Regions from separate parts of the Homo sapiens genome. Here all the other regions are linked to region 3. The links come from fine-mapping of genetic effects on gene expression. A gene starts in region 3. Each other region holds a variant in brackets. All regions are shown on one strand. Distances are from middle to middle. Region 1 overlaps PJA2 (praja ring finger ubiquitin ligase 2). Region 2 overlaps PJA2 (praja ring finger ubiquitin ligase 2). Region 3 holds the start of PJA2 (praja ring finger ubiquitin ligase 2).

What was found. PIP is the estimated chance that this variant, and not a neighbour inherited with it, causes the effect. A credible set is the group of variants that fine-mapping cannot tell apart.
Region 1: its variant is the best candidate, but not a certain one, in a credible set for the expression of PJA2 in whole blood (INTERVAL, PIP 0.57).
Region 2: its variant is the best candidate, but not a certain one, in a credible set for the expression of PJA2 in whole blood (INTERVAL, PIP 0.89).

Annotation. Positions count from the first base shown.
Region 1 is chr5:109,348,317-109,356,626 of GRCh38, forward strand. It overlaps PJA2 (praja ring finger ubiquitin ligase 2), which reads right to left. Exons shown (of 10, transcript NM_014819.5): 7 at 7,599-7,710. Among named protein-coding and RNA genes, the nearest start is that of PJA2, 58 kb to the right of the region's middle. The variant T/C (reference allele first, on the strand shown) is at 3,312.
Region 2 is chr5:109,330,162-109,338,471 of GRCh38, forward strand. PJA2 (praja ring finger ubiquitin ligase 2) reads right to left here. Exons shown (of 10, transcript NM_014819.5): 10 at 4,561-7,195. The coding sequence ends at 7,070. Among named protein-coding and RNA genes, the nearest start is that of PJA2, 76 kb to the right of the region's middle. RefSeq lists a silencer at 7,887-8,181. The variant G/A (reference allele first, on the strand shown) is at 3,697.
Region 3 is chr5:109,405,779-109,414,088 of GRCh38, forward strand. It overlaps PJA2 (praja ring finger ubiquitin ligase 2), which reads right to left and starts at 4,196. Exons shown (of 10, transcript NM_014819.5): 1 at 4,064-4,196. RefSeq lists enhancers at 3,281-3,380, 3,421-3,540, 4,651-4,830 and a silencer at 4,061-4,140.

The DNA of each region.
Region 1 (8,310 bases), 57 kb before region 3:
ACAGCCCTAAAAGATGCTCTTGCTCCTAAAAATCAAACGCAAAATGTAATTGTGTGGATTGCTAAATGAAAATTAGAGTTGACTTCTTAGTCTCATCAAATTTCTCAAAAGTTTTACCATTGATTGGTTAAGGAATAAGATTCTGAAACCTGGAATGAAGACATCTGACTGAACTCTGAGGAAACTGATAACTTTGAATCCCCAAGTCACTCTGAGCCTCCTGTTACCAGTAGAAACAGTGTGCCCTCCACAGACTAGGCTTCCTCTGCTTGAAAACCCTGTGATAATCTCACCTGGAGTGTGAATCTCTTACTGCTTTCATGCCCAACAGTAAAGTTACCAGAACTACAGCAGACAAAAAAAGAAAGAACTGAAGATATAAACAGTGTAGGTCTGGGTTATTCTACCAAGTAAAGAATCCTAACCAGCTGAGTGAGCTTCTGGCTGAGGGCAGGGAAAATATGACTGGGTCATGGAAGAAAGAAGTTATAGCTATCATTCAGTCTCATGAGCAAATACAGAACAAGGATTAGTAATTCTGCATATTTTATGTGCTTGTTTTATGTATCTGCTTATTTATATATGTTAACAGTTTACTTTTCCTCTTTCCCATTTCTATTTCAATATGCCAGTTGTTGGAAGTTAAATTTGCAATTTAGTCTTTATATAAGAGAATATTCAGTGTTACTATGAATGTGTGGAGTAATGCATAACTAGCGATGGATACAATGCCTCTTGGAACTAGCCATCTGCTCATTCTGGGAAATGGGTGAAACTTCATTTGTAGTAATAGCTGTATTTTGTTGGGTGGAAATACAATTCTATTGATGGATGGAAATTTAAATGTGCATTGAAAGGTATATATGGAAGCCAAGTTATCAAAGTGCTGGAATGTTCCATTTATGGAATTATTGCTCCACAAATCCATATTCACTATTGTGTCGGCTCTGTGAAAATCTGGGCTGTTTAAATACTTTCCCTCCTAACAGCTGGCATGATGCTAAGCTTTGTTCACAGAGGATGTTGAAGAACACTGCTGGAGGAAAGGGCCTTCCTTCTGTCCCAGTGTGCTTGCTTGACAGAGCACACTGGGACTAGAGTGATGTTCGTGGCTTTCTCTAGCACTAGACTCAGTGCACACAGCTTCTCTAGCAGCCAGTTCCTGTAATGCACTTAGTAGGTGGCAGCCTCCCCCAGCATCCATGTTGGACAGTTCTGCAGTACAGCACTTCCAGTTAGAAACCTTCCTATGAATAGCTTTCCTCAGCACCCTAAGAGAGCTGACTTCCAGCAAGTTTCACCAGCACATACCCAAGTGACTTCTCTCTCATACAGCAAGCCACAGCTGTGCCATTTCCATCAAGGTGACCTCAGCCCTGAGATGGACTAGGGACTCTTCCTTGGGTTGTCCTAGCTTTGCCAGACAGGTGGTGGCTGCTCCTTATATGCGCTTTTCCCATATTCTGTGTAATTATCTTTATTTCCTCCTAGCCAATCCCTTGTTACTCTACTTCTTTGTTCTAGTTTAGAATTCCTTATATTGAACTTTCCCATTGCAAGATAGGAAATGGAAGGTAAGATCCTGTTATCAGTCCCTTTCCTTCTCACATAGCTATAATTATGAATCTCCTCCAATTCCCCATATGTACTACTCAAGATAGAACCTGCTTGCAAGAACTCATTTGTGCTACACATAAACAGAAATAAGGGATGTTATTTATAGTAACTTTCATTTGGGGAGGTTATTCCAGGCTAATTATGCTTTGATATATGTTTGTCTCAATGGGTTCATTATCTCTTTCTAATGATTATCTGCATATTTGCAGTGCTAGTAACACCTGAAATTTCATATATGTAAAAATAATTTATTGCCTTGGTACTGTCATATATTTAAGATGATCCAGGATCACTTATAAGCAACACAAGCAAAAGATAGCCTTTTAAGCCACTAGTATGAAAATCTATAAAAATTAAAAAAAAAAAAACTATCTATACCTTTAGGCAGTACAATGTATTTACAATAGTTAGTCGAAGAGGCAGAAAGACAACTAGCCTAAATCACCCTATCTAGAATACATGTAGGTTTAAAGTAGCATAATCCTTTATCAGCATAAAATTTTGTTCTAAAGAATAAAATACAATTCAGTTTTTAAAGAACGAAGATAGTAATACCGATTCTGAATGATCACCACTGAATCCAGATTTGTTCACTGATTACACCAGTTAGTTGACTATTGATTTGAATAAACCTATATGAATATACTATTTACTGAGAGATTCCCAATACAACCAGGTATTTTGCTAAAGGCTTTAACACAATCTCACAATAACCCATCAGGTAGATTTTATTATTCCCATTTTGTAAATGAAGACGCTAAAGCTCAGAGAAGTTAAGTGAATTGTCCAAGGTCACACAGCCAAACTCTTTAACACAAAAGCCCACCTTCTAAACCTCCACATTACAGCCTTCCTAGTGCCTATACCTGGGTGTATACAGGTGCTATTGTGAGTATGTAAAGACTTTACAAGGGGCCCGTGGGTATGGACAGTCTTAAGATAATCAGTTTCAATAAGCTTTCATAGGTAAAATCTTTCTTCGAACTGATCCACATAAGAATGCACCTGCAGTATATCATGCTGGTTCTCTGTTCTAACATTCTGTTTATACTTGCCTTTCTTCCACTTTATAAATAAAAGCATACTTCTTACCCATTCACAGGGACAATCTGAAGTACTGAGGTAGAACTGAACTCTAATGACTAAGTAACAAATCTTTTGGGTGGCTTCCAATCCTTTGCTTAAAAAAAAAAAAAAAACGGAAGGAATCTAAAGAATATCTAGACAAGTTGATGTGATTCTGGGCAAATATCTCAAAAGAATTCAGTGACAATGCCATAATAAACTCCTTCCATTCCTATTAATTTATTTAGGTGAACAACGTTTTTCAACCTTACATTCATAAGATGAAAATCAGAAGTAAATTTATGCTGAAATATGTCTCATTCCGGTAATAAATAAAATTCACTCATAACTGGGAAAGGAAAATGCCTCCATCTCATTAGATTCACTTCCTACAAAACACTTACCAAAATTCATAATTTATTTTTGATTATTTGGATACTATTAATTGTAACTCAATTTAACCACTTTTTATATTAAAAATTTTAAACATTTTTCTAGCGAAGAAGTATGATAAAATAACTAATACTACCTAGATTTATGCTGAAAAATTTTAGATGTCAACATAAATGTGCAAGGGGATTTTTTCAAAATCCATTTTGAAAAGTAGAAAAGTTTCAAAAGGTTAAAGA[T/C]GTTTAAGGTTTTACCCTCTCCTCACTCAAATTAGAGACACAGATATAAGGAGACAAATACATACTGCCAGTATTTTCACCAAAAGCCACTACCTGAAAACAATGACCAATCTAGTATTGGGAAAATAACAGAAATGAAAGCAACTACTTCCAAAAAGTTATAGGGCTGCTTGAGAAACAAACAAACAAAAACAAGCAGTTTGTTTTGTTTTTGTTTCATTTAAAGAGTGTTAGTGTTAAATATAAAAGAAATAATCATAAATTATTTTTGTTTCATTTTAAAAAATGATTAAATAAATGCATACTGAACACAGAAAAACAGATTTCTGAAGAGTGACAGGAAGACAACTGTATTGATTTTCTAGGAGTGAAACATCTCAATCAAATTCAAATAAATTAAATCAGAGCACTAAAATGTGAAGAAGCTGATAAGCTTTAGAGGAGAGAGATGCTTAAAGCCATTAAACACAGGCAGAAGTATAGACTGGTAGGAATAATGCCACTGAGTTCACTATTGGTAGAAGCCAACAATGTTTGAGACTGCAAGCTCTTGCTTGCCTTTTGTCTTAGTTCACTGCTAGTGCCTTTACTTAGCATGACCTCTCAAGACCAGTCTCTCTGGCTCTTCTTTCAAGATGCCAAATGTCACATTCCCCACTAGTAATAAATACTAAAACATTTTATTCTCAACACTTCTTTTTAAAGTTATCTCCATATTGTAGGAAATCATAAACCACTAGCATAAAATGAAAGACTAAATGTTGTGAAATCAGACCCTAGAACAGATCACTCAAAGAGTTATTTAGCACAACGAAATGAGTGATCCTTAATCTTTATGTATTTCTGATGCAAGTTACCATGCTATACCATTATTTCTTATGTGTCAGAATTTGCCAAGGCAGGTTAAATAATTTGGCAAAAATCCTAATTGTATCCTATCTCATGATGTTCTTTCTGACTTTTTTCCTAGTATAGAGTATTTCTGCTATGGTTACTTTGAGAAAAACACTCACCATAAAGCGTAATTGAAAGCAATCTCCATGGACAGTTATATATGTAAAAAAAGTGATGACAAAGCAGAGCTAGCATAAATGTATGTGAACATGTATATGCATGCATGTGTGTGCACAGATGGACAGATATCTAATATCTATAGATATCTATATTAGATATGTATATATTAGATATCTATAATATCTATAGACATCTATATATTAGATATCTACAATATCATAGACATCTATATATTAGATATCTATATCTATAGACATCTATATATTAGATACCTATAATATCATAGACATCTATGTATTAGATACCTATTATATCTATAGACATCTATATATTAGATACCTATATCTATAGATATCTATATATTAGATACCTATATCTATAGATATCTATATATTAGATACCTATATCATAGACATCTATATATTAGATACCTATTATATCTATAGACATCTATATATTAGATACCTATATCTATAGACATCTATATATTAGATACCTATATCTAGATATCTATATATTAGATATCTATAATATCTATAGATATCTATATATTAGATACCTATAATATCTATAGATATCTATATATTAGATACCTATAATATCTATAGATATCTATATATTAGATACCTATAATATCATAGACATCTATATATTAGATATCTATAATATCTATAGATATCTATATATTAGATACCTATAATATCATAGACATCTATATATTAGATACCTATTATATCTATAGACATCTATATATTAGATACCTATATCTATAGACATCTATATATTAGATACCTATATATAGATATCTATATATTAGATACCTATATCTATAGATATCTAATATATTAGATATCTATAATATCTATAGATATCTATATATTAGATATCTATAATATCATAGATATCTATATATTAGATATCTATAATATCATAGACATCTATATATTAGATATCTATAATATCATAGACATCTATATATTAGATACCTATATCATAGATATCTATATATTAGATACCTATTATATCTACAGACATCTATATATTAGATACCTATTATATCTACAGACATCTATATATTAGATACCTATATCTAGATATCTAGATTAGATATCTATGATATCTAGAGATATCTATAGATTAGATGTCTATGATATCTAGAGATATCTATAGATTAGATGTCTATGATATCTAGAGATATCTATAGATTAGATGTCTATGATATCTAGAGATATCTATAGATTAGATGTCTATGATATCTAGAGATATCTATAGATTAGATGTCTATGATATCTAGAGATATCTATAGATTAGATGTCTATGATATCTAGAGATATCTATAGATTAGATAGATATCTAGAGATATCTATAGATTAGATATCTATGATATCTAGAGATATCTATAGATTAGATATCTATGATATCTAGAGATATCTATAGATTAGATATCTATATCTAGAGATATCTATAGATTAGATATCTATGGTATCTAGAGCTGTCTATAGATTAGATATCTATGATATCTAGAGATGTCTATAGATTAGATATCTATGATATCTAGAGATATCTATAGATTAGATATCTATGATGTCTAGAGATTTCTATAGATTAGATATCTATGATGTCTAGAGATATCTATAGATTAGATATCTATGATATCTAGAGATATCTATAGATTAGATATCTATGATATCTAGAGATATCTATAGATTGGATATCTATATCTAGAGATATCTATAGATTAGATATCTCTGATATCTAGAGATATCTATAGATTAGATATCTATGATATCTAGAGATGTCTATAGATTAGATATCTATGATATCTAGAGATATCTATAGATTAGATATCTATAATATCATAGATATCTATATCGATATTAGATATCTATAATATCTATAGATATCTATATCGATATTAGATATCTATAATATCTATAGATATCTATATCGATATTACATATCGATATCTAATATCTATCGATATTAGATATATTAGATATATGTTATATATCTAATATATAATATACAATATATTAGAGATCATTTAAAGACAAATTTATCTAATAGATATATCTAATATATATTATATATTAGAGAGAGGTAATATATTAGATATATAAATATATTATTAAATATATCAATATTAGATAGGTACCTGCTATCTAACTTGTCAATCTAAACTAGACTTTCTGGCTGGGCATGGTGACTCATGTCTATAATCCCAGTGCCATGGGAGGCCAGAGTGGGAGGACTGCTTCAGGGCAGGAGTTTGAGACCAGCCTGGGTAACATAATTGGACCCTATCTCTACCAAAAAACCCCACAAAAAACCAAAACCAGGTCTGATGGCCCGTATGTGTAGTCCCCACTACCTGGGACAGGCTAAGGTGGGCTGATTGCTTGAGCCCAGGAGTTCAGGGCTGTAGTAAGCTATGACTGCACCACTGCACTCCAGCTTGGGTGACAGAGTGAGATCTCGTCTCAAAAATAAATAAATATACAAACTGGACTTTCTAATCTCAGAAAATTTAAAGACAAAATATATTATAATGCTCCTAAAAGTTCTTGCCAATTTTTTGTTCTCTCACCTGTGGCTCATTCACCAGTCATTTCTGTACCTATATTTTGGAAATCACTTTGGAAATAGTGATTTGAAAGGACTTCTTTTAATGAAATCCACTGGTACAGTAGTAGTTCCCAAACATGAAAATACTTGGGCTTTGAACTTAGGCAAATACATTTAAGAACAGGTTTTTCTGTTTTAGTTAAATAATGAAAAGAAGGCAAGAGAAGCTGAGGCAGCAAATATGCCCCACTTATTAAAGTGTGTATATGTTTGCTGGGATAAGGAGGAGCAAATTTCCTAACTGCATTAGGCAGCCAGATAGTATTTAGAAGCCATGAGAAAAAAAGAGATTTGTAATATATCCTTAGCTTCAACTGCATTTCACAAATACACCTGTGCGTGTGTATATAAGATATTCACTCTCATACTTGTATAATTCAATAGAGAAAAAAGTATATTTTCTAAATGTAAGCAAAACATTTTCCATTCTGCAGTAAAAACTGAGAAATACTGAAATTTAAGGCAAACTAGCAGGACATCAAGTATAATTTGTATGCACATACTGGTGACAATTATTATTCAATAACTGTTACTAAACTGATGGGAAAAAGATTCACCTTTTCTTAAGAGTAGTCTAAAAATCCCTTTAAACCTTTATCATTTTGTATCCCATCAACTTATATATGGAGATCAGAGTTATGAACATACCTCCATAGCCTGGGCTAAGCGTTCTTCTAGTGCCATGTAGGTAAGGAACTGAGGATCCACATATGAAATAGCTTCAGCAACTCCTAGTCCATCTGCAAAGCCATCAAATAGGCTGAAAAAAAAAAAAAATAACAGAAAAAACTCACCACTATGATTTGGGAAATCTTATGCTGAGGACATAATTATATTAGCATACTGACAAGCCGATAAACATGCTGTGAACAGAAGACCTTAAAATATTTTAATACCAACTTGTAGGGTTAGGGGCAGGAGGGACCCAACAGAAAAGTGAGGTGCTAAAGATGAGTAGTTAAGATACCACTACCTCATCCAACAGGCTGCCAAACTCAATGCACAAAATTTGTAGAAAAATTCTCTTTTGTGTTTCTAGCTCTAACTCTAGAGACTGCTTAAAGGTACAGGTTGAGCATCCCAAATCTGAAAATCTGAAATCCAAAATGTGCCAATGAGTATTTCCTTTGTACATCATACTGGCACTCAAAAAGTTTCAGATTTTGAACCATTTTAGATGTTGAATTTTCAAATTTGGGATGCTCAACTGGAAGTATATGTAAATATTCCAAAATCTAGGAAAAGAATCCCAAATCCCAAACACTTCTGGTACCAAACATTTCAGGTGAGGGATATAGTACATTTCCCCACCCGATTATTTCCCACATATTTCTCCTGTTTTTCAGTTTCCAATCCGCAT
Region 2 (8,310 bases), 76 kb before region 3:
TGTATCAGAGCCTACATGACCAGCAGAAAAGCCGTGCTTCAGAATTGCCTGCTTTATGTTCTATTTTCTGGATAAAACCACACTGGATGCATATGTGTGAATGCTGTAGCACAGGGAGAAAACAAGCAAAAATAAAGCACAGGATATAAGGTCAAACACTGGAGTTTTGGTTATTCTATTCAACTCACCCCCATCTCCAGAAAATAAACTCTTGGCTGGCGCTGGTGGCTCATGCCTGTAATCCCAGCACTTTGGGAGGCTTGAGGCAGGTGGATCACCTGAGGTCAGGGGTTTGAGACCAGCCTGACCAACATGGTGAAACCCCATCTCTACTAAAAATACAAAAATTAGGGGGGGCATGGTGGCACATGTCTGTAATCCCATCTACTCAGGAGGCTGAGGCAGGAGAATCGCTTGATCCGGGGAGGCAGAGGTTGCAGTGAGTCGAGATCGCACCATGGCACTCCAGCCTGGGTGAGACTGCATCTCAAAAAAAAAAAAAAGAAAAATTCTTTTCAAATTTCCCTGGTTGTAAGTCATCATGGCCTGCTGTGGTCCATAGGGCATACGACCTCTTAGGAGATGGGTTCAACCCTTCAACCTATAACTATCTCAATATAGCTATAGATCCTTTGGGCTTGAGAGTAGGTGCTGGTAGCTAAAGTCACCTTAGGGGGCTCATTCTTTCCTTGCTTTTGTTTCTAGCTTTGGTAATCACAGAAGAGACACTAAGGCTCTGTGTGTCAGGCATTCCCCAAGCTAAGATGAAATCCTCTCTACTGAGTGAATCCAGCTGTGCTGGGGGTGGGCACGCTAACAGTCTCTTCATTACAATGGACACTTCAGGAGGCCAGGGATCTTGTCTATTTTGTTCACAGGTTTGTGAGAGTAGGCACTTTGTAAACATTAAATGGACAGCAGCTCAGGTTATACAAATATTTAATTTGTTGGGTTTAATGAAGGTGTTTTTCAGTGGATTGAGAAAGTATTCCCATTTTATATGTCCTAATATACTATTTTCATAAGCTCCCTAATTTGAAAATTTTTAAACATTTTCTTTCAGGTAGTATTTACTCATTTAGATGTGGGTTGTAACCAAGGTGCTCACTTGTGAATAGCTTCGTCATCCAATTGAGGCTGAGCTTGCTTCCCAGACAAGGCTGATCTTGTAAGCTCCTCATCCCTATCTTCATCCGCTTTAAAGGTCAATTTAAACGGAAATAAAAAGTCTAACACTCTAGAATGGCACCAAACCTAGAATACTGCAATACCAGGGTTGGGGGATCCTTGGTCCAGGTAAGGAGGAAGAATTATTTGTTGGGGCCAAAAGCTAGTCGGTATGATGGCATGTAGAGAAGCCCCTTTTAACAGCTGTCTGTAACAGTTGGGTTCTCTTCACAAGTCATTGGGACTAGACTAACAGAACTAGGGCACAATGTAAACGGCTGGATTTTTTAAAGAATTCTTTAAAAAAGAATTTAAAATGGCATTTATTAAGGATTGAAATCAAAAGGAAAGCCCCTGTCAAGTGTCTCTTCCTACGAATAAAACAACTTGGGAGTAGGTTCTGTACTCTTTGGAGTATTTGCAGTTGTGGAGGGCAGATGTCCATGGCTTCTAGAGGAACTGAAATCCAGACCTTTGGAAAGGGTAGCACAAATTGCTTGTAGAAAGATGTCTGGATAGTTAGCTCTTGATGGCTAAGAGACAACAGGATGCTATACACCTTTCAGGCCTGGGACAGTCTCTGCAGAACAGTTTAAGAATCCCAGATTACCAGGCAAAGGTAGGAAGTTCTCATTAGATCTTACTGGTGACTAAGAAACTTCACTAATCAGGGCCACATTAGAATCTTGGTCATCAGTACACAAATATCTTAACATGTTAGCAAAATAATATAGCAAGGAAAAAATATTTCTCAAAATTCTGAACAGATCCTAATTTTTTCTGATAAAACAAAACAAAAAAAACAAAACAGACTGCATCTCAAGCAATGTACTTAAATAATAACACTGATAACACTGATCAGGTAAGCTGTTCCTACTCAGGAAGGCAGCATGAAGTGGACAGAACCGACAGCATCTCCTTTAAGAACCAGGGCTCTTTGACCATGTCTGGGGCTCATTTTTTTTTTTTAATTTGTAAAGTTGAGACAATAAATCAACCCTGCAGACTTATTATGAAGATGAGATAAGATAGAAAGCCTACACTATGCCTAATATTTAGTGTTTCATAAATAGAAACTATTATTATAATGTAAAAATGCATTTAAAAATGAATCTTCGTAAGAAGAAACATTGTTATAATCTAAGGAAATTACTGACAGTAAGAAGTATCTTTCTAAAAAAATAAAGACCTCCTCCCTGTCAATGTTCACTATAAAAACTGTATATTGATTATATACTAATAATATAAGATGCAATAAATTACCAACTATATTAGTGTTAGGTTTCATAATTAATATTATGAAAATTACACTTTATTTTGACTTAATAAGGTTCCCGTCAAATTCTCAACTCTTGAAAGGTAATTAATATGTTTTTAAGAGTGTTTTATCTGAAATGTTCATCATTCTCCAAAAAGTGGTGCTATAAACAATGATGGAAACCAAGTATAACATATTTCCCTATGACTTTGCACATCAATGAAAAACATTTTTTTCAAACCCTTATTCATGCACAAATAGTGGTAGTACTGAACCTATAATTTAGATTCATTACTTTATAGAGAAAACAGAAGCAGGGTGATTACGTGACTTTGTCAAGGTCATGTTATTTCAAACACCACAATTTTGAGATGGGAAAAGGCGGACTCCAAAAATTATTAAAATGAGCTTGACATTGATCACTTAACAAATTCTAAGGCAGATTATTAAACAGATGTCACGTAAGGAGTTAGAAAAAGAGGCAGTATGGTTTCATTAAGAATGAGGCGTTACCAGCTGACTTCATTTCCTTTCTTTAATATACTAGTACATTAGGCTACTTCCAAAGACAGTGCATAGTGCATCTGTCTGCCAAACACACTAAAATTTTTAGTGTCCTTTTTAGGAAAGATGAAGAAACGGGCATATGAAGTGACTGGTAGTTACCGCAACAACTGTAACCAAATTACTAATTAACGGATCACTCACCTTAAGTGCAGTGTATAGTGGCATTCTAAAGAGGGTCTGTACTGCATCCCATTCAATTCAACATGTATCAACAACTTAGACAAAGCCACTACATACCAAAGGTATGCTTTATCAAAATTGGAATGGATGCAAGGCTAAGACGAAAAACCTGAATTCACAAGAACCTTCACAAATCAAATTCAGTAAGGATGAATGCTGTCCTTCAATTAGGTTAATAAGAGATTGTTTAAGTAAAGATTAGGCGGGGACTTGGCTTACCAGCAATACCTGTGAAGCTCAGCAAGAGACAGCAAACAGTATGACAGCCTGGCTAATAATGATGGTGGTAATAATAACATATACCAACCATAACAGCCACAGGAGAATCACTCTGAAGGTGGCAACAGTGCTCCTGAACCCTGCCCTAGTTCGACCACAGAACTGTGTTTAATTCTGAGCAACATACTTTAAGAGAAGGAGTGAAAGAGCCAACTCTAGGCTGGTCTGGAATAGATACCATGTAAGATTTCAGAAAGCGTGAAGCCTGAAGAAGGATATGAAGAGGTGACCACACAGGAGAAACA[G/A]GACTTTCTAATTTCACGTGTGCTGTTTATAGAGAAATTTGGTGACAATCTTCCAACAATGAAATTCATCCCTTGCAGGGGTGCTGAATGGCTCCATCCAGCAGTGGCTGAATGAAAATGATGATGAAATTATAAAAACATCAACAGTAGAGGTATACCACTGATGTTTCCAGCTCTGAGACTATTTTTCTAGTACATATTTAATCTATTAGAGGAGAATCAGAATTCTAAACTTTCTAAGCATCTAAACAAAATGATTAGTTTTTATCCAACTTTGTAAATTTTTTTGAGATAGGGTCTCACTATGTTGCCCAGGTTGCTCTTCAACTCCTGGTCTCAACCAATCCTCCTGCCTCAAGCCTCCTGAATAGCTGGGATTATAGGTGCACACCACCATGCCTGGCTAGTCTTTGTCTAATTGAATTGCGTAATTTATCAGCACCCAATTGACCCTTCTGAAATGACTGAGTTCTCTGAACTGTTTGAGAACCACAAGGAATCTTGCTAAACAGTTAGATTTAATAATATTTCCATGCCTGATTTGGAGAAAACCACTGATGTGAGGTGGGCTCCCTTCCTTATTAAGGGTTTCTGCAGTCCGGAGTCAGTGTGGAAATCAGGTTCTGCTGAAACCTACGGGATAGCTAAGGATGTCAGGGAGGAGAGGGCAAGGACTCAGAGACCCTCCAGCAGTAGGAAGTCCATCAACTACTTCTGTCTGGCTCTTTCTAGGGCTTTCTTAGATTATAGTTCAAGGACTTCTAACATCACATGCTCAGTAGTGTTATCTGTCATTAACTCTAAATCCTTCAGGGGTTACATTATAGAAGTGATACAATTACACAATTAAATATTAGAAATGACCACCGAGTATATTCTGTTTATTGTTTATGATTTACACAGAAAATGATGGGCTGGGGTTATAGAACAATAAACCAACCATTACATTTAGACCTGGGCTTTTGAAAAACTTGCATTCCATTTTAACAATTCGTATGTATCTAACAAATACATAAATCCAGATCACAAATAATCTTAAGAGTTAAACAATTAAGAAACACAAAGAATACCACATAGATCTACCTTTAAATATCAGCATTCATATTATAAGAAATAAGAAAATGTTAAAAAAATAAAATTAGGTTAAGTCACAACATAAAATAGAGAAATAAGATAAATGCTATTTTATTAATATTCATACTTATTTCTAATTTACCTTCATATAGTCTTAACTTTTTCAAAAGGATCCAAGATATGATCAAATAATATTTTAGTATCTGAACTTGCCAGCCTTAGCTTATACCAGAGCTTGTTACCATGAAAATCCTAAAACCTCAATTTTCTTTTTCTTTTTTAAAATTTAAGCCAACTCTTATTCAACTTTTCTTCTTCACAGCAGCTGTTTATAGATAGTAGGGAGCCAAGAATGAAGGACAGTAACAGATGGAAAGCAAAAAGTACAACAGCTATCTTAAGTTCAGCTCTCAACATTGCTGGTTGAGTTTGGAACCAAAACCTCTTAACAACTGGCAGATAATAGCTAAATCTTAACAGACAAAGAAGAAATATTTTCTTTGGGACAGCTGCTATCTAGAAGAAAACCAAGGTCCCTTAATATAGTCTAAATATAATGTGTGGCTTATTATAGAGAAATCTTTAGCAACGTAAGTTTAACCAGTAAGTGTCACAACTGATCAACAGTACTTAAAAGGAAACAAACAAAAATCACACTAGCCACAAATTTCCACCATATACACATGAAATTAATTTTAATCTGTTTTGACTCCTTGACACTAACTGATCATTAATGAAATATGATATGGAAAGATCACAGAGTAGAAAACAAGCAAAGATTAGTTTATACAACAGTGACTATATACATCAGAGGGAAAACATGCTAGCTAATGCAACATTAAGGCCTGAATGTAAGCATTTCCCAAGTCACAGAAGCCCCAAAGAACTCCTAAATTACAAATTCATCACATTACATGCATGCAATGTTCACTTTTGTTTTACCCATAAAAGGATACACAGTATTTTGCTGTAAATACCAGACACATTTACAATATATGCAAAAATTAGAATGCAAGTGTTATGTTCCTTATATTTAAGCCTCATATGTGCCAACAGTGAAAATTCATTTATTTTTAAGAATGAAAAAAGGAGACGGGATATAAATACTCAGAGAAATACACGAATAAGATGTAACTCTGCATTTGGGAAGCCATATAAATATTCCTTTTATGTGCCCAAACTAAATTATCAATGTACCAGTTAGACGGACATACACTCACTATGTGCTTTACTATTTTACTTGCTCAAATGTTCTACAGTCATCATTCTCTAGTGTTAACATCAAATCACATTTGTAAGTGAACTATTATGTCCATGTTTGCACATACTCGTCCACTGTGTGTGATCACCTGAAGGAGACATTGTGCATCTTAGTTTGGGGTTATATAATTACAAAGATGACCCTGTGCAAGTTTTCAGACCTTCCAAAATACTGTAGAAGCAAAATTACCTTAAACTAACTATAAGCAATATTAAACAAATGTGCCATGAGTGTTCTGGGCCTTCAAGTATAATTTTAACCAAGGAGAAACAGGTTGGGTAAGAGGTTAGAAAGAGTTTCATAAGGCCATCTAATTCAGCTCATTGTACCAAGCCCTGAGCACACTAGATTCTTTGTATGCTTTACTAACCTTACGTTAAGCACATCCACTGGTTTCATTAAGGATTTTACTACCTAACTTTATTTCAGGGGGAGTTACGTCTACGATTTAAAACTTTTGTAATGTTCTGGCCAAAATTTTAGCCTTCATTTGGCATTCTGAAAAGTTCTAATTTTAAACAAAAATGGACTTTCTGAAAAATTTCTCAGCATATGAACCAAGAGGTTATGATATAGCAAAATCAAAGGGACTAGTGAAAAAGCATACTTTAGAATTTGTTTCATTTCCAATGAAACCAAATTTTACTACGGTTGTGAACACAGTCTTTACATTTGATGCAAACAGGACAGCTTAATTATAATCACTTAGTGGCAGTATTACAGACAAAGCCAATAACGTATGCCACACAGATGATTATTTATTCTGGAGAGAGTCAACTGATAAGCTTGGCTTTACAATTAATACAAACATATTCAACTAAAGAAAATGGATGCACTGTCTCAACATTCAGCTTAAAAATGTTTAATACTTTCTGCAAACCTAAATTTAGTTTAGAAAGGTTAATATTCTTTCTAAACTATGGCATATACTATATATAGCATTTTTAAATATATTTATATATAATTATTTGCACATGAAATTTAGAAGGAATTTGCAGATTTACTTTGATACACTGATCTCATTTCAACTGTCAAGGTTTAGGGTGCTTCTGCAATACTGTCATTTGAAGGTGGGGCATCAGGATCAGGCTCAGAGGAAGGAGCTGCAGATGCTTCAATAACCGCAGGTGGGAAATGACGGCGGCACACAGGGCATGTTCCCGACTGGAGAAAAAAAAAATGTTAAGAGCCACCAGAATCATCTTAACTGCCACACAAGTAACTTAATAAAGAAAAAACAGTGTCATTATCCTAATAATAAGACTCTTAACAACAAAAAACAAACTTCAAATCCACACAATGCAGAAAGACATAATTTTAATACCTTTTCCTCCCTGCCCAATCAGACTCTAGTTTCTTTGAGGGTAAATGATGTCTCTTATTCATGTTCGTATCTTTAAGGTCATTCATCCTCCTTAATTTAGTGAGTTTTAATTAAGAGCTGCTAAACTCAGCAGTGATGCAATGGCAGAGGGTGAGCAAAGAATCATGGCACATGTCCACATGGAGGTCAGAGTTTAGCTCAACAATAATCTGAATTATCATTATTTAGTCTATTATGCGTTTACTAGAGAAACCACAGACCTACTTTAATTCACACCAAATCATTTATGATTTGGTGTGAATTAAAGAAGGTCTACGATGAATTAACGTAGGTCGATGGCAAATTAAAGCCTCATTTTAGGGTAGCACAGATATGTCAAAGCAGATGGACTTCAGACTTTCTTTCTAAGCCATGACATTTCTTTCCAAAAAGAGATAAGAGTGTTAGGTGCCTTCTAAATGACAAAACAATCAACCACAGACCTTGGAGAGAAGGTGGGAAGGAGAAAGCAGTTATACTAGGAGCACAACATTCTAGGACCAATGGACGATTATAGAGCTACGTTATCTGATAACAGATTATCCCCTTGCAAATCTGGTCTTTTTCCCAAAGAGAACTCCCTGCTGGAAGGGAGGCTGAAGAGATCATGCTGTCGAAGGCAACAAAGAACTGTATCTTGGGAACATTCTCCCCAGAAAAAAAGCAGGAAAGGCTTCACACTAAGGTATTTCCTGACAGGAGAAAGACTGAAGAGACTGTTACTTTGTGTTACAGCAAAGTCTCAAGTACAATTCAAGGCTGTACAACATATATTACGTTTACCGTTTAAGAATCCATTTCAGGCCAGGCACGGTGGCTCATGCCTGTAATCCCAGCACTTTGGGAGTCCGAGGTGGACAGATTGCCTGAGCTCAGGAGTTCGCAACCAGCCTGGGCAACATGGTGAAACCCCGTC
Region 3 (8,310 bases):
AACTTATAGAAAAATCCTAAGAGTAAATCTGCACAACTTTGCATTAAGCAAAGAGTTCTTAGAACACAGAAGCACAAATCATAAGAAAAAGTTGGTAAGATGAATTTATCAAAATTAAAAGCTCTTCTTTTAAAGTTAGGAAAATAAAAAAAAAACAAGCTTCAGATTGCAGTGTGTGTGTGTGTTTATGTATCTCTGTGTGTCAAATGAGTTGTATAAAGAATGTATTAAAAAATGCTTACAACTCAATAAGACAAACCCATTTTTTTTTTTTTTTTTTTTTGAGACGGAGTCTCGCTCTGTCGCCCAGGCTGGAGTGCAGTGGCACGATCTTGGCTCACTGCGAGCTCCACCTCCCGGGTTCACGCCATTATCCTAACTCAGCCGGAGTAGCTGGCACTACAGGTATCCGCCACCACGCCCGGCTAATTTTTTGTATTTTTAGTAGAGATGGGGCTTCACCGTGTTAGCCAGGATGGTCTGGATCTCCTGACCTCGTGATCCGCCTGCCTCGGACTCCCAAAGTGCTGGGATTACAGGCGTGAGCCACCGCGCCAGGCCCACCCATTGTTGTTTGTTTGTTTTTTAATGAGCAAAAAATGTCAACAGATACTTCACAAAGGAAGACATACACTAGAGCAAATTCTCAGCACCATTAGTCATCTGGTAAATGCAAATCAAAATCCCAGTATGATACTACTATATACCCACTAAAAGGGCTAAAATTTAAAAGACTGAAATAACCAAGTGCTGAGGATGATGTGGAGCAATTGGAACTGTCATACACTGCTGATGGATATGTAAAATGTGACAACCACTCTGGAAAACAGTTTGGCAGTTTCTTATAAACATCCATGTATCATACAACCCAACAAGTTCCATGTCTAGGTATTTACCAAGAAAAAAAAGATGTTCACAAAAATTCAAAATAAATGAATGTTCATTGAATAAAGGAATGTTCAACAAATGAAGGCTATTTATTAATAACAGCCCCAAACTGGAAACAATCCAAGTATCTGTAAATAGGTGGAATGGTCAACAAACTAGTAAATCAATACCAAGGACTTCTATTCAGCAATAAAATGAGAACCCGTTAAATACAGAAAAACATGGATAATCCTGAAAAACATGCCAAGAGAAAAAGCCAGATACAAAAGAGTATGTATTACATCATTCCACTTACATGAAATTCTAGACAAAATGATACCAATTTATAGCAAGAAAAAGATGATAAGTGCTTTCCTAGTCCTGAGGGTGAAATTGTGATTGACTGCAAAAGGGAACTTTGGGGGAGATGAAAATATTCTATATCTTAATTGTGGTATGAAAATATTCCACTCTTGACTGTGGTGGTGGTCACAGAGCACATATTTGTCAAAACAAAATACACTGTACATTTCAAATAAGTACATTTTACTGTATCTAAGTTATCCTCAATAAGGTTGATTTTCTAAGAGGGTGCTCTCTCAGGAAAATATAAACCAGGGAATACTGGTGATGCCCACATATACCCACCTCAAAAGATGTCAAAAAAATATATATAAGAAAACTCATTTATGGTTTTTAAAAATGTCAAAAACAACAACATAAGCATCTTGGAAAGCCAAGACTAGAAGGAAATATTTTAATATCAGCGGCTTTACCAGAAAGCTTCACCAAACATCATAATTAATGCTAAAACATTAGAAGCATTCCCCCTTAAAGTCAGAAACAATGCCATGTTTGTTGTTAGCTATCAGTGCTATTAGTTTTTAATCTACCAGTGCTCAACATTTTATAAGATGTATAATTGCAAAAGCAATGAGAAAAACACATAAGTTATAAAAACTGAAAAGGAAACCACAAAACTGTGAATATCTCCTGATAATCAACTCAATAAAATAATCTGATACATGATAGAAAACTCAAAAGTTTTGCTATAACCAGAGAAAACAGAGAGAGAGAAATGTTACTGAAAGTTTCCATCCACCACACGAATCAAACCATAAAATAGGAATACCAGGAAGGAATGTTATACGTATGAAGAAAAAAAAGAAAAACTATAAAAATTTCCCTAACAGTATAAAACAAGATGTGAATAAAATGGAGAGGCCACATTTCTGAGGAGAGAGACTCAATACTATAAAGATCAGTTGTCTCCAAATTAATCTAAAATTTCAATATAACCTTATTCAAAATAGCTAAGGATTTTTAGTTCAGTCTAAAGTTTACCTAGAAGAAGAAATGCATAAGAAACATTCAAGAATATTTTCAACAAGAGTAATAAAGAGGGAGAAAGGGTTACCAAAATTTAAAATATGCATAATCTTTTAACTGAGCAACTTCACTTCTAGGAACCCATGCTCCAGAAATAATCACACATAGAGGAAGTTTACTGAATTGTTAACAGTGGCTGACAATCAAGATGCAAGCAGGACTAGAAGTGGAAGCGGTAATTTTTACCTTACATTCTTCCATACTGTTTAATTTTTTAAAATCAAGGATGAATTAAAATTTGTAATTAAACATCGATCAATAAATTAGAAAGTTATTTTCATTATAAATCATCATTTGTAATAGCAAAAAGAAACTGCAATTAAATGTCTTTCAAAAAGGGAATAGAATAAATTATAGCCCATTCAAACTCACGAGATACCAGTTAGCCTTTTAAAAAGTATTAGGGAGACCTATATGTAAAAAGTAAAAATGTCCAACATATGTAATTAAGTCAATAAGCAAGCGGTATGCAAACATGTTTGGTATATGGTATAGCCTCCCTCAAAAAAAAAAACTTTACGTGTACTTGTATGTGTCTAGAAGTGCATTTGCAAGATTTTGAAAAATGAACACTAAACTGTCAACTTTACACTGGAGTGGGACTGGGGGATGAAAAGAAATATTTAAATTTTACCTAACAGTCCGTTATTTATATTGTTGAAGTGTACATCAAACTTGCATGTCTGCAATGAATTTTTAAAATTAAGTGGTCATCTCATATAAAAATGACATGAACCCCAAAAGACAATTACAACACTGAAAAATACAGTTTAAACGTTTATTACTGTTATCCTCAGGTTTATTCACATACACTTCAAATGATCCGTAGCCTTCAGCAAAGGTGACTGCCATTTTAAAGAAATGTGACCAAATATTTCATGATAAAACAGAATACATTAAGCCTGCAATGAAAATTTTAAACTTCACAGAACCAGCAGACTCAAAAGAAGCGCCTATGCGGATGTAAATTTTTTTTTTTTTAATGTCCGGAGAAGGAACTCTCAGATTACTCTCCTCCCTGCAAAACGACTATTTACCACCTCCCCTTTGCTTCAACTTGGTCTGAGCGTCTTTAACCTCACCATTTTGAATGTGCGCAAAATGATTACCAGTCATCTGAGGGAGGCCAAATTAAAGGTGCATCTGCAAGAGGAGCTCTGGCCTGACATCGCTAACTGAGAGCAGCCCTGGCGGAAAGGTGCTGATCCCGGGAGTAGAGCGACTGCTGCGGCTCGAGCGGGGTGTCTGCGTGCCGAGCCTCACTGACAATCGGGGAAAATGCAGACGCCCAGCAAAACGACGGCAACAGAAGGCTCCTCGGGGGAGGGGTGCTGCAGGCCTGTGGCGTAAGATGGTTCCGCTCTACGCGGGGTGACGGGAAACCGCAGAAGGTGGGTGTGAGGTGTTGGTTGGGGGGCAAACTCTTGTACAGTGGCGAGTGTAGGGGAAAGCCAGCGGGCTCCTTGGCCAAGTCACCAAGGACAGCAGAAGAGGCAGCAGTAAAGAGCGGCAGCGAAGACCCCGATACCAACCAATGTCATCTGTCGGGGGGCGGCGGGCGCGACCGTCCCGGATAGGAGCGCGGCCCGGGTCCGGGCTGGACAGGGCCCAGGAGGCGAAGAAGGCCTCCCACAGCCATCAACCCCACCCACCATGGCCGGCGCAGCAGGCCAGGGACAAGCCCCGCTCCTTCCGAAGCTAGAGACAGAGAAACTGAGGAGCTGAACGCAGCAATTTCCTCGCCCCGACCCCCACACTCCCGACAGCGGAACAAGCCAGACTGAAAAAAAAAAAAAAAAACCCTCACCGAAATGTGCAGCGGCTCCGGAGCGAGAACAGCGCTCGAACCTCCACCCGCCACCACCGCCTTCTTCTCCGCCTCCAACTCCTCCCCCGCCGAACGCGAAGCGGCTGGCGGCTGTGGCGGCGGCGGCGGCGGTGGCGGCGGCGGAAGCAGAGGCGGTGGCGGTGAGTCCCGCCCCTTGCGCCGCGGTGGAGGCGAAGGAGGAGAGTACGCAAGCCCCTCCCCCATAGCAGAGATGACCAGTCAGCTTACAGGGTCTCTGCTGGGGGACAATGCATACGCCCAATCAGAACCTGAGGAGTGGGCTCACGTCAATGGTTGGGACGTGGCAGAAAAAGGGAAAAATACTTGGACCTTCTCTACAGCCTGCTCCCCCATCTCCCTCAGGGGGAGTTCACCAATTGGCTGAAGAGCGGAAAGACGAAGCCGACTCAGTCCCCCGCCCCAGCCGAGCCCACCTCCTTTCCCTGCAGTACTGCGACGTTTGGGGAGGGGGCGGAGCACCGTGTAGGAGCTAAAACTGCGCGGCCTTTTGTGGTTTGGGCTGAGAGAAAAGGGCGGGGTCTCGGAAAGGGAAGGGGGTGTGGAGAACTAACAGAAAGACTGGCGCAGTTAGGCTTTTTCGGAAATTCCAACAGCAACAACCAAAATGGAGGCATTAAAATCGATCCTGATTCGACTGGAAACCTGATTAACAAGGTTAAGGTCTCCTGGCATAAAGTTCAGTTACAATGCAGATATCGGTGAGACAAAAAAAAAAAATGACACGAAGAAAGGCTTGTTTACCCACCCTGACCCTGGGCACTATATGGCGCTTTCCACCCTCCCTCTCCGCGCTGACCCTTGCCCCTCGCTTCTTATTCTGCTGGGGCGGGGTTCAGAGGAGGCCTGCCTTTCCTCTGTATAGCCTTGGGCTGACCACAGCCTCCCAGCTTGCATCTTGAGGCTGTTTGTCAAGCCGGGAAGTAACAGCTCCCATCACATGCAACCAAAATAAATACAACAGCTGCAGTCCCCGGACACCTTGCTTAATTTAAACCTGGGTAACAGTTTAGTTAATTATGTCAGTGATACAAAACTGTTTCTTCGTTCCGCACATATTCCCTTTATTCATCTTGAAACGTGTCCGCTTATCTGATTACAGTCCCTCTGTCTTCTCTTATTCCCCACCCCCGACCCGTCGCCTGATGCCCAGGATATATTCATCGCCACCCCTCCCCCGCGAATTAAGAGCCCCACTTCTTGTGCTGTCCCCTTAACAACAGCGAACTCTCTTGCCAGTGAACTGAGACTAATTTTTTTTTGCTGTTGATGGAAATAAATTACCCAAAATTTACTGTAGAAATTTAGGTTTATGAGAATTTGCCAGACATTTTGTGAAATCCAATCTGAATCCCAGCCCACTCCTGTAGTACGTTTCTTACCAAAAAACCATTCCTTGCTTGATATTACTCTGCCTTCACACGTGTTGCTATAGGAGTTCTGACTTTAACCATCCAAGTACCTCTTTGAAAAAAAACAAAATTCATATTTTAATTACATTTCCCTAGTTTCCCTTTAGGGTGTTCCAGATTGGCCCAACTGGATACATTAACCTGTTCTAGAAGGCAGGGATTCCCAAATTTCAACCTTTTTCATACTGTATCTGTGTATACTACTCACTGTCCTTTTTTCTTTAAATAAATGTATATTTTCTTTAATTTCTTTAAGAAGGAGACTTTATAAAAGTACTATAAATGGAAAACTAGCATCACCTATTATAAGTTGAAAGTAACTGTAAGAAAAATGAATGCAAAACAATGTTTTTAAATTGTGGCTAGAAACTGTTGTCCACTAAAGGCTCTAAGTCTAAAGACAACTGTCTTTGTTAAAAGGGCAAGCTACCAAGCATTAGACACACATTAAAGATACAGCACTCAAATGGTATTTTTATCATGATGTCATCAAAGGATAGAAAAAATAGAGCCGGAATAGCAATCACTTTCTCACTATATGAGTCATTGTTTTTAATCCTGCATGCGTGTCCCAACTACAGTTAACCAAGGCATCATAAGTGATCTATGTTACTATGAGAAACACTGGTATGGAGGCTGAAAAAGCCTGTACTCTAGAATCAAGCAGACATATTCACATACTGGCTCCTGCATTTGTAGCCGTGTGCCTCTGGGCAATCTACTTTGTTCTCTGACCTCGATTTCCAGTTTATTATAAATATGGGAAAGTAATAATACCAATTCATGAGTTGTATAGATTAAATAACCTAATCAATGTAAAGCATATCATACCTACAATGAAGTACTAAATACATATTAGCTTATGTATTGTATTACTATATAGAGATAATAGTATGTATTATTCGCTTATATGTATTATTGTTGATTCCAGGGTTGGGAAGCACTATCTAAGGCAATGGATTGAAGGTACTACATGATATACTGCAGTGGTTCCTAAAGTATATTATAATCCCTACACCAACAGCATCAGCATTACTTAGGAACTTTTTAAAAATGCAAATTCTGGCAAGGCGTGGTGGCCCATGCCTGTAATCCCAGCACTTTGGGAGGCTGAGGTGGGCAGATCACTTGAGGAGTTCAAGACCAGCCTGGCCAACATAGTGAAATCCTGTCTGTACCCAAAAATACAAAAATTAGCTGGGCGTGGTGGCACATGCCTGTAGTCCCATCTACTCGGGAGGCTGAAGCAGGAGAATCCCTTGAACCCAGTAGGCAGAGGCTGTAGTGAGCAGAGATCACGCCACTGCACTCCGGCCTAGGTGACAGAGTGAGACTGTCTCAAAAAAATAAAAATAAAAAATAAATAAATACATAAAATGCAAATTCTCAGGTTCAACCTCAGACTTGAATCAGAAACTCTAGGTATGTTGCCCAGCTGTATTTTTACAAGCCTTCCAGGTAATTCTGACATACGTAAAGTTTGATGACCACTAATTTAAATAGAAGAAGGCTTGGTCAAGGAGTGAGAGGATCTATGTTCTAATCATAGCCTTAAAGTGATGTCAGCCAAAATGAAGGTGTAAGGACCTCTGAAAATTCTCTTCAGCAATGAGAACACTGGCAAAATTGTCAGAACTAACTTTTTTAGAACTCTGAAAATTTACCAAAGGTTTGCAGCAATCCAGGGAGTATTTATTCAAATAGCTGAATCTCTAAGAACAGCCAGTTTTGTGTCATTTTGACTTGCCCTACTCTAACAGCCACATGTCCAGCTCCACTGTAGCTTTGAAAACCAACAGCCCACAATTGTGAAAACGAGCAGGCTGGTAGCCAGTAGGGGAAGTAGAATGGTGTTGGAGCTCCTTTAAAGAGCTTAATTTCCAGAGAACTGTCATTATTTGACCTATCTGGTGGTTCTGCAGATTTTACAAGGCTGCCTTTGTTTGATTTCACTCCAGGCTCACCCAGTGCAAAGACTTTTCCCCAGGGGTCATTTGTCAAAAACAAAAACATTGATTAACTTTGCCACTGTCTTAGGCAGTGGAAACAGGTGGGGCCAAATACAGCTTAACCAAACACTCAAAACTGATGCAGGGCAAGAGGGCCCCAAAACTGGGGCTTAGCCCAGGAAGGTTCTTGGTTTCACCCAGGGAAAAATTCGATGGCAAGCTGCTGGTGTTAGACAGCAATTTTTATTGAAGTGGCAGTGTACAGCAGCAGCAGAGATACTGCTCCTTGCAAAGCAGTGGTAACCCATGGGCAGTGTGCCCAGAGTAGCAGCATATGGGCTGTTGGAAGCTGTATTTATACCCACTTTTAATTATATGCTAATTAAGAGGTGTATTATTAGAACTTTCTAGAGGTGAGGAGTTTTTAGATCCATATAAGGTAACTTTCAGGCTGTTGCCATGGCTTGTTGCCATGGCATTTGTAAACTGTCATGGTCCCAGCAGGAGTGTCTTTATACTAATGAACAGTGTGGGCAGCTAGAGGTCACTTTTGTTGCCCTTTGCTGGTTTCAGCTGGTTTCTTTACTGCACTCTGTTTTCTACCAGATCCTGCTCTGGTAAGAGCAGTAGTGACAGGGGTATTGACCAGCGCTCAAAAAACAAATCCTGCTGATCTCCTACCTCAAAAGGAAAAGCTGGAGAATGAGATGTCCACAGGAACTTTGAAAACTCTGATATGGTTTGGCTGTGTCCCCACCCAAATCTCATCTTGAATTCCCATGTGTTGTAGGAGGGATCTGGTGGAAGGTGGTTGAATCATGGGGGCAGATCTTTCCTGTGTTGTTCT